Homo sapiens: one gene and its partner. The protein of the gene in region 2 purifies or fractionates together with the protein of the main gene of each other region. This does not show direct contact. Each region holds a gene or a part of one and is shown on either strand. Other genes may lie near its edges. The genes, in order: ACVR1 and NBAS.

Region 1 (3,825 bases), about 140 Mb from region 2:
CCCATCCGCCTTCGCCCTCACTGTCCCTGTCTCACTGAGTGAAAGCAGTGTCAGCACTTGGGCCAGGTAAATAGATAAATAGACTTGCACAAAAATACAGGGTAATTGAGAAAGCCAGAATTTAAACCCAAATCGCCCTGGCTCTAAGAGCCATGGAATAAGCCATAAAAGTCCTCTACACCACAACTAAAAATGCCTGCAAAAAACTTTAGGGCCATGCTCTTTCAATGCTTATCCTAAAATCTTTCGTCTCCTACTTGGGAAACATTGTAATTTCTCAATGTAAAAGCAAAGACTTTAAAGGGATTCAAAGGAAATAAATTTTCCTAACATGTCAAATCCCTTATGTTTAAAAACAAACAAAAATAAACTTTGTTATTTACATAACTAAAGCTATTTTTGTCTAAACCTTTATCAGGCTAACAATAATTGCAATAATATAAATATCATATAAACCATGTTTAATCAAGTAGAGGGCCCTGAATTCTCATTAGCACAATTATTTAGCCAATATTCTAGGAATCCAGGAAGAACATGGTTTTATATAAAATGCCACTATAAATGAAAATACTCTTATTTATAATGCAACTAAAGCTACACTGAGTACTACTCTAACACCATAAGAATGAGCTATCCTAACAGGGAAAAGAGTGAATCAGTTCGGGGATTATTTTCCTATTTCTTAACTTGATTCTTTTGCCTTGGTTACAGAATGATTTTAGAGACCACTTTTAAGATAAACTAATTCTATAGAGTATTTATTGTGCACCTACTTTATGTGAAGGTTAGTGAAACCAAAATGCAACAGTACTGGTTACTTCTGAGGTGGGGTGTGGCAGGGACTGACTGAATGAGCCTGAGGTAACTGTCAAGAGTAATGGGAAACTCTGTATCTCGACAGGGATTTGGGTTTTACAACATTTGTCAAAACTCTTAAGATTTGTATATCTCACAGTATATAAATTTTACCTGAAAAAAAGAAAAAGCAAATAATGCATTCTTGTCAATGATATACTAGTGTACATGCTGAAATCATCAGAAGAAAGAATTCCTTTGTCTGCAATTTACTTTCAACTCTATCAAAGGTTGATATGGACTGATGGATGGGGAGATGAATAGATGAATAAATACATAATAATGCTTAAGGATAGTAAAATGTTAATGTGAGAATCTATGTGGTGGGTATAAAGGTGTTCATTGTAAATGTTCAACTTTTCTGCATGTTTGAAATTTTGCATAACATGTTGTGGGGGAGAGATGCAACTCACCTAACCATTGAAACAAAAATAAAACTGGTGAGGAAAAAAATATTTTTAGAAATTTACCCAAATCTGCTATGCAACACTGTCCATTCTTCTTAACCAGAATATTTTTGCTCTTTAAATCTCGATGGGCAATGGCTGGTTTCCCTTGGGTCCCAAATATCTCTATGTGCAAATGTGCAAGACCACTAGCTATGGACAGCACTATTCGAAGGCAGCTAACTGTATCCAGAGTAGTAAGCTGAAGATAGTCGTACAACGATCCCATTTCATGATAATGTGTAATTAACCACAGCTGGGTACTGGAGTGTCTTGATGTCATGTCTGAAGCAATGAAACCTGGAGAGAGCAAGAAAAAAATTAATATACATGAGGATTCCACATTATAACTTAAAGTATTTAGAAATAGCGACCTACACAGTAAATGTCATCTGTAACAAAAAGTAATTAAACTGACCAATTGCCCTAAGAGGAGGTTTACAGAAGCATCAACAGAGAAAAATAATAGCATTTATTCCTTAAAAGGGCACTGCTAATAGGAAAATTTCATATTCATTTCATTATAAGTAATACTTTAAAAGATATTTTACATTCCTTAAGTTTCAGATAGCAATAATATCTTTGTGCTCACCCATAATGATAGTGCCAAGCCCTTCAGCATGTTGATATTTTAGGAACAGACCATTCATCAACCATCCTAAAAGAACATCAAATCTAAAACCTGAGTACTGTATTCTAGTCCTGACTCTGCCTGTGATTTACTTGTCTAATACTGGGCAACTCAGTTAGGCTCCTTAGCCTATATCTGCTCAGATGTAAAATAAAGGGGGCAAGTTTACATTAAATGATTGACTGATTCACGAAATAAAAAAAGAAACCAACCAAATATATGAGTATTTATGATGCTATCTGTCAGTCACACACAGAAAAACCAAGATGATAGTGTTTGCTGGCTAAAGAAGACAGATGTAAAAACGAAAACACTACAATAAAATACGAAAAGTACTATAATATATATCTTCAAAGGGCAACATGAGCCCAGAGCAGGAAATTATAGTAATTCAGACTAGGTGTTACAATAGGCTTCCATTAGGAAGTGGCAACTCAACTGGTCTTGAAGTAAAGTGAGTGACTGACAAATGTGGATGAAGAGGTTGGAGAAGATTTTTCTTTTTCTTTTTCTTTTTTTTTGAGACGAAGTTTCCCTCTTGTTGCCCAGGCTGGAGTGCAATGGCGCGATCTCGGTTCACTGCAACCACCGCCTCCTGGGTTCAAGTGATTCTCCTGCCTCAGCCTCCCGAGTAGCTGGGATTACAGGGGCCCACCATCACGCCGGGCTAATTTTTTATATTTTAAGTAGAGATGAGGTTTCCCCACGTTGGCCACGCTGGTCTCAAACTCCTGACCTTCAGGTGATCCACCTGCCTTGGCCTCCCAAAGTGCTGGGATTACAAGCGTGAGACATCGCGATCAGCCCGGAAGAGATTTTTCTAGACATCTGGAGGGAACTTTTGAGCATGCAGAAGACTGTCTGGAAGTTAGGGGCACTTCCTATCTTATGAAATAAATTGTGACGTGTGCTTGCCTTTTCTGCTACAGAGGTGCCTTTCTAGGATTATTCTCACATATATGAACCACGCTGGTAGACAGTGAAGTTTGGGACTTAAAAAGAGGTGAGAAAAAAAATTTTTTAAGACGGATATGGCTTGAGGAAGAATTAAATGACTTATGAAAATGTAAGAGAAAATACATTAAAATGCTTTATACTTGCATAGTACTTTATATAAAATTTATGTCACTTTCACATATATTTTCTCATGAGATTTTTCCCAACAAGCTGGTAAGAAAGACATCATTATGCTCATTTTACAGATAATAAAGTTGGTGCTGGGAGATGCCAAGGATCACACAGCTATTTAAGTTGCTATCAACTCTGAATTTAGTGCTAGCTGTCCTGATACCTTGCATAGGAAGGCTCTGTGAGCCAAGAAAGGTCCCCTATTTGATCATCATCATCATCGGCAACCACAACAGAGGCAGCTAATAATTATTGAGTACTACATGCCTGGAACTTTATATGCAATCCTCCAAAAACCACATGAAGTAAGTAGATCGCATAATTGATATTAGGTTCCTGTAGGTCTGATTCTAGAACCCAGACTCTTACTGACTATGCCATACTGTCCCCAAACAAACTGATTTCTACTCAGAGAAAAAATAATTTCACATTTTCACCTATGGGACATATGCAAAGCAAACTGAATAATATTTTAGCACCTTCACCCTCTACTTCTTTCTCTCTCTTCCTCTAAGCCTATTCCCATGGCCAGCCCTGAGTCTCCCACTCCTTCCCTGCTCCCCAGTCTGCTTTTCCCCTCGATGCTGCTTCTCTTGGAGCCCTTAGCTGGCCACAATATGCATCAAAATGTGTTCTTGGACATTAGTTATTCTTAATAAAGAAAATGTTTCTGCTTTAACAGTTTGAACCAAATAATACTAATCTTTAATGATTTTCTTAAAAAATACCCCAAACTCTAACAGCACCACTCAAAAGAAATTAAAT
Region 2 (3,825 bases):
CAGTTATTTTTAATATGGTGAACCCCCGTCTCTACTAAAAATACAAAAATTAGCCAGGTGTGGTGTTGTGTGCCTGTAGTCCCAAGCTACTTGGGAGGCTGAGGCGGGAGAATCACTTGAACCAGGGAGGCAGAAGCTGCAGTGAGCCGAGATCGCACCATTGCAATCCAGCCTGGGCAAAAAAAAGCAAAACTCCATCTCAAAACAAAACAAAAAAAATCATAAGCTCCCTATGAGCAAAAGCCACATTTATGCCTGTCCTGTACCCCTTCACAGTCCCTAGCATAGTGCTCTTGCTCTTAACTGTCTATTTAACTAAACGAAATATTCCCCTCCCCAAAAAAGTACTTGCTTTGTCTCTCTTAACATCCCTCAACTCCCTCAGAGACAAAAACTGTCCTTTACTGTATCCCAGAAAAAGATATACATGAACTCATGAGCTCATTGTCTTAGATCACAAAACAAGAAAGAAAAATAATACAGAATTAGTGTTTTGATTTTCTAAAGAAAATACAAGCAACTTTATCTTCTTCCGTTTCATTACCTCTCATGCTCTTTCACCTCTGATATCTTGCTTGTATTAATGTTAGGTTTATCATCCTGTTTGGCTGATGCATCATCTTCTTCCATACAACTTTTTCATGTTATATTTTTACTTTTAATTACTAACGTATAAAACTTTTAGGGAAATAATCATCATGAAATTTTCCCAGTGTTTCCTATAATCTTCCACAATGCAAAGGTATTTTCCTTTCTATATGTTAAGATCAGAAGTCTCAACCTTTTTAAAAGTATGCCATGAGTCTAACTATAATTCTTTCTTACAAAGATGCCAAAGGTTAAAACATATAGGCTTGCTATGAAATCAATATGTCCCCCAAAATCCATATGTTGAAAAACTAATCCCCAGAGTGATGATGTTTGGAAATGAGACCTTTAGAAAGCAATTAGGTCATGAGAGTGGAGGCCCCATGATAGGATTGGTGTCCTCATAAGAGGAGGCAGTAGAGAGCCTTCTTTCTCTCTCTCTGCTGTCTGCCATATAAGGACACAGCAAGAAAGAAATCCATCTGCAAACCAGGAGAGTGCCCTCACCAGGAACGAAATTGGCTAACACCTTGATTTTGCACTTCCCAGCCTCTAGAACTAAGAGAAATAAATTTCTGCTGTTGAAACCACATAGTCTGATATTTTTGTTGCAGCGGCTAAAACTAATTGAGACAAGACTATATTAACCTTAACTATGGGAGGCAGGTAACAGGAAGTATCCAGTTTTGAGATTTAAGTTTTAAAAAGGCATATTTCGCAGTTTTCATATATGTTACCTATTTATTGCCTCTCAGCTCCAAATTTCCCCTCAAAGCCAGCTCTGTGGTAGCATATCTCATTTGTGGTTGACACGATTTTAAGCTCTGGGTGCTGGAGGGCCACTGCAAAGGAAGAGGCTCTGCTTTCTAGTCCTGATGTGCTTTGGTTCTTTTCTTCTTGCTCCTATGGCTTGGCCACCAACAAGGCACGTGGGCAACATCAAGTGGCACTTACTTCCCCGCTTCCTCCCTCTGTTGACAACCTCCCACTGAGTTTCAGTGACACTCTCATGGGCAGATTGTTTTCTAGTGAATCACCCAGGCACCTGAGAGGGAAGCTTCCCAGACTGGAAGCTACAGTAAGGCTGCCTATAGGAGTAGACAGTTTTTTCTTGCCAGTCTTGGCCATGATTCCTTAATTATCTACCAGCCTTGAGCCACATGCATGCTGGTAGGGGTTTCCTGCTTCCTAGTCCCTGGGGTCTTCTAAACCCCAACCTCAGCTCACTGGCCCCCCCCAGAAGCAGGCGTCCAGCTTTCCTATCCATCCCATATCTCCCTGACTGCCAACCTTGGCAACCGTGGACCAGCCCTGGCTCAAGGCAACCCAGAGAACTTCTCTTCCATCCTACATGCTGCAACCACTCCTGGTCCAATGGGTCTGAATCCCAGCCTAGGGGAGGGGCCTCCCTTCCAAGTTCATTCCCTTCATGGATATGTCCCTTCAGCCCTAGGGTAGTCCTTAGCGTTCTCTTCACATCCTTTATAGTTCATCTCTGGTTACTAGAAAATAATTCTCCATATTGTAAATTTCCCTGTTTAAATTACTGTGTGATTTCTGGCATCTGACTAGCTCTTGACTCATGCAGGTAAAGAGAAGTGATTGTGGTACAGGAAAGAAAACGTTAGGCCGAGACCAAGTAGTTAGCTGGTTTATCTGTGAATATTTGTTCACATGTATTCAGCATCAAAGTCCAGTTGCAGGGGCAATAAAATCTAACAAAAAGACCATTTTTCCAGCTGAGAAAATTGTACTTCATTGGCTGTATTATAGAAAAGTCAGCAATGTAAAGTACTCTAAAATGAAGCCCTATAAACAAAAGATATTACATGAATATACATTTTACCACATTACCAAAATATTTAAACATACCAAATAATTCTGAATTGAAGCAACGTTGACCGCTGACTTCCTCCACTGCCTCTGATATACAAGGTCAGTATCCAGGCCGTAGGTATGAGCCAAGGACAAGGCTTCCTCATACTCTTCACTTTCAATCTTCAGATAAAAACACGAGGACAGGAATGTTACATGACTGAATTATCCACAGGGTCCTGATGATGATACAATGAATGATGATAATCCCTTGGACTTATCCAGCATGTCACTAATTCCTGTGCACTGTGGCACCAGAAGCTCACAGATATTTTGAGGAGCAGAAAGATCTCGTGTTTCTTTCAGCACTTCAACAGAAAGATGAGAGATAAAAGGTGCAAAGCTCTCGTTTTAGAGTAAAACAGCGGCAAAACCAAGACAACCATGGAACAACCCGGCTTCTAGTCCAGAGCTCCTACCACGACATTGCAAGAACAGCACAAATCACGTGAACACACAGTGCTGGTCACCTCGGCTTCCCAAGCAAGCCCTGGACTAGAAAGCAAGTCTGAACTTCTTCCTTCACCCTCTGTAGATGGCTGATTTAAACACAGATAAAGGGAGAGCTGAAGGCCACATGAAGGGTAGCAAAGAAATGAGCTAAGCCACCAAGTGGATAATCAGTCTAAGTGAATTCAATTTTTATCCATGGTTTTGATTTTGATTATTTAGGTACAAAGATTAGCATTATTTTAAAAAGCTTTATAGAACTGATATTTTTAACATGTCAATGATCCAACATCCCTCTTGAAATTTTCTCCTTTATTAAAAAATTAACTTTTTCTCAATAAAAGAAAAGCTTGATGACTTCAAACTTGGGTAGTAATATGCTACTCTCTCACCTTCCTCTGATAAAGTTCCTCTGGTGTCGTGGAGCGCAAACTCACAAGGCGGTAGTTTTTAGTAATGGTTCGTGGGCGTTTCCGTGGTGGTGCAAATCGCTCCATTTCAGTCACCAAGTAAAGGCCCTGTTTTATATAACCAAAGTAGCGAGCCTTGGCAGATATTTCATAATCAGAATCAGAATCCTCTTCTCCTTCATCTTCTTCTCCAGCTCTAGTCTCCAAACGAGATCGTTTGGGGGCAAGTTTAATCTCACACTAAATTGAAAAAGGAGATTTGAAGTTAATAGTAAGGAAATAAGAATAACTTTTTAGAATTAATGAAAGAAAATATATTTCTAAATCTACTCTGGTTTGATTCATTAAATCAGCTATGTGATCAAGATTAACAATGGAACTCAAAGGAACCTTACAGCAAGCATTATATACATCAGAAATATGCACATACATTATCAGCTCAAATCTAAACTAAAGCCTGTTTTTTTCTTCTTCTTCTTCTTCTTCTTCTTCTTTGAGATGG

What was found.
Region 1: the proteins of NBAS (region 2) and ACVR1 purify together in Homo sapiens (co-immunoprecipitation; one large-scale study listed by IntAct). This does not show direct contact.

Annotation. Positions count from the first base shown.
Region 1 is NC_000002.12:157,764,596-157,768,420, forward strand, and holds part of ACVR1 (activin receptor type-1 precursor), read right to left. Parts: intron 1,602-3,825; coding exon 1,326-1,601; intron 1-1,325. UniProt on the Homo sapiens protein: Bone morphogenetic protein (BMP) type I receptor that is involved in a wide variety of biological processes, including bone, heart, cartilage, nervous, and reproductive system development and regulation.
Region 2 is NC_000002.12:15,470,762-15,474,586, forward strand, and holds part of NBAS (NBAS subunit of NRZ tethering complex), read right to left. Parts: intron 3,564-3,825; coding exon 3,306-3,563; intron 2,587-3,305; coding exon 2,461-2,586; intron 1-2,460. UniProt on the Homo sapiens protein: Involved in Golgi-to-endoplasmic reticulum (ER) retrograde transport; the function is proposed to depend on its association in the NRZ complex which is believed to play a role in SNARE assembly at the ER. Required for normal embryonic development.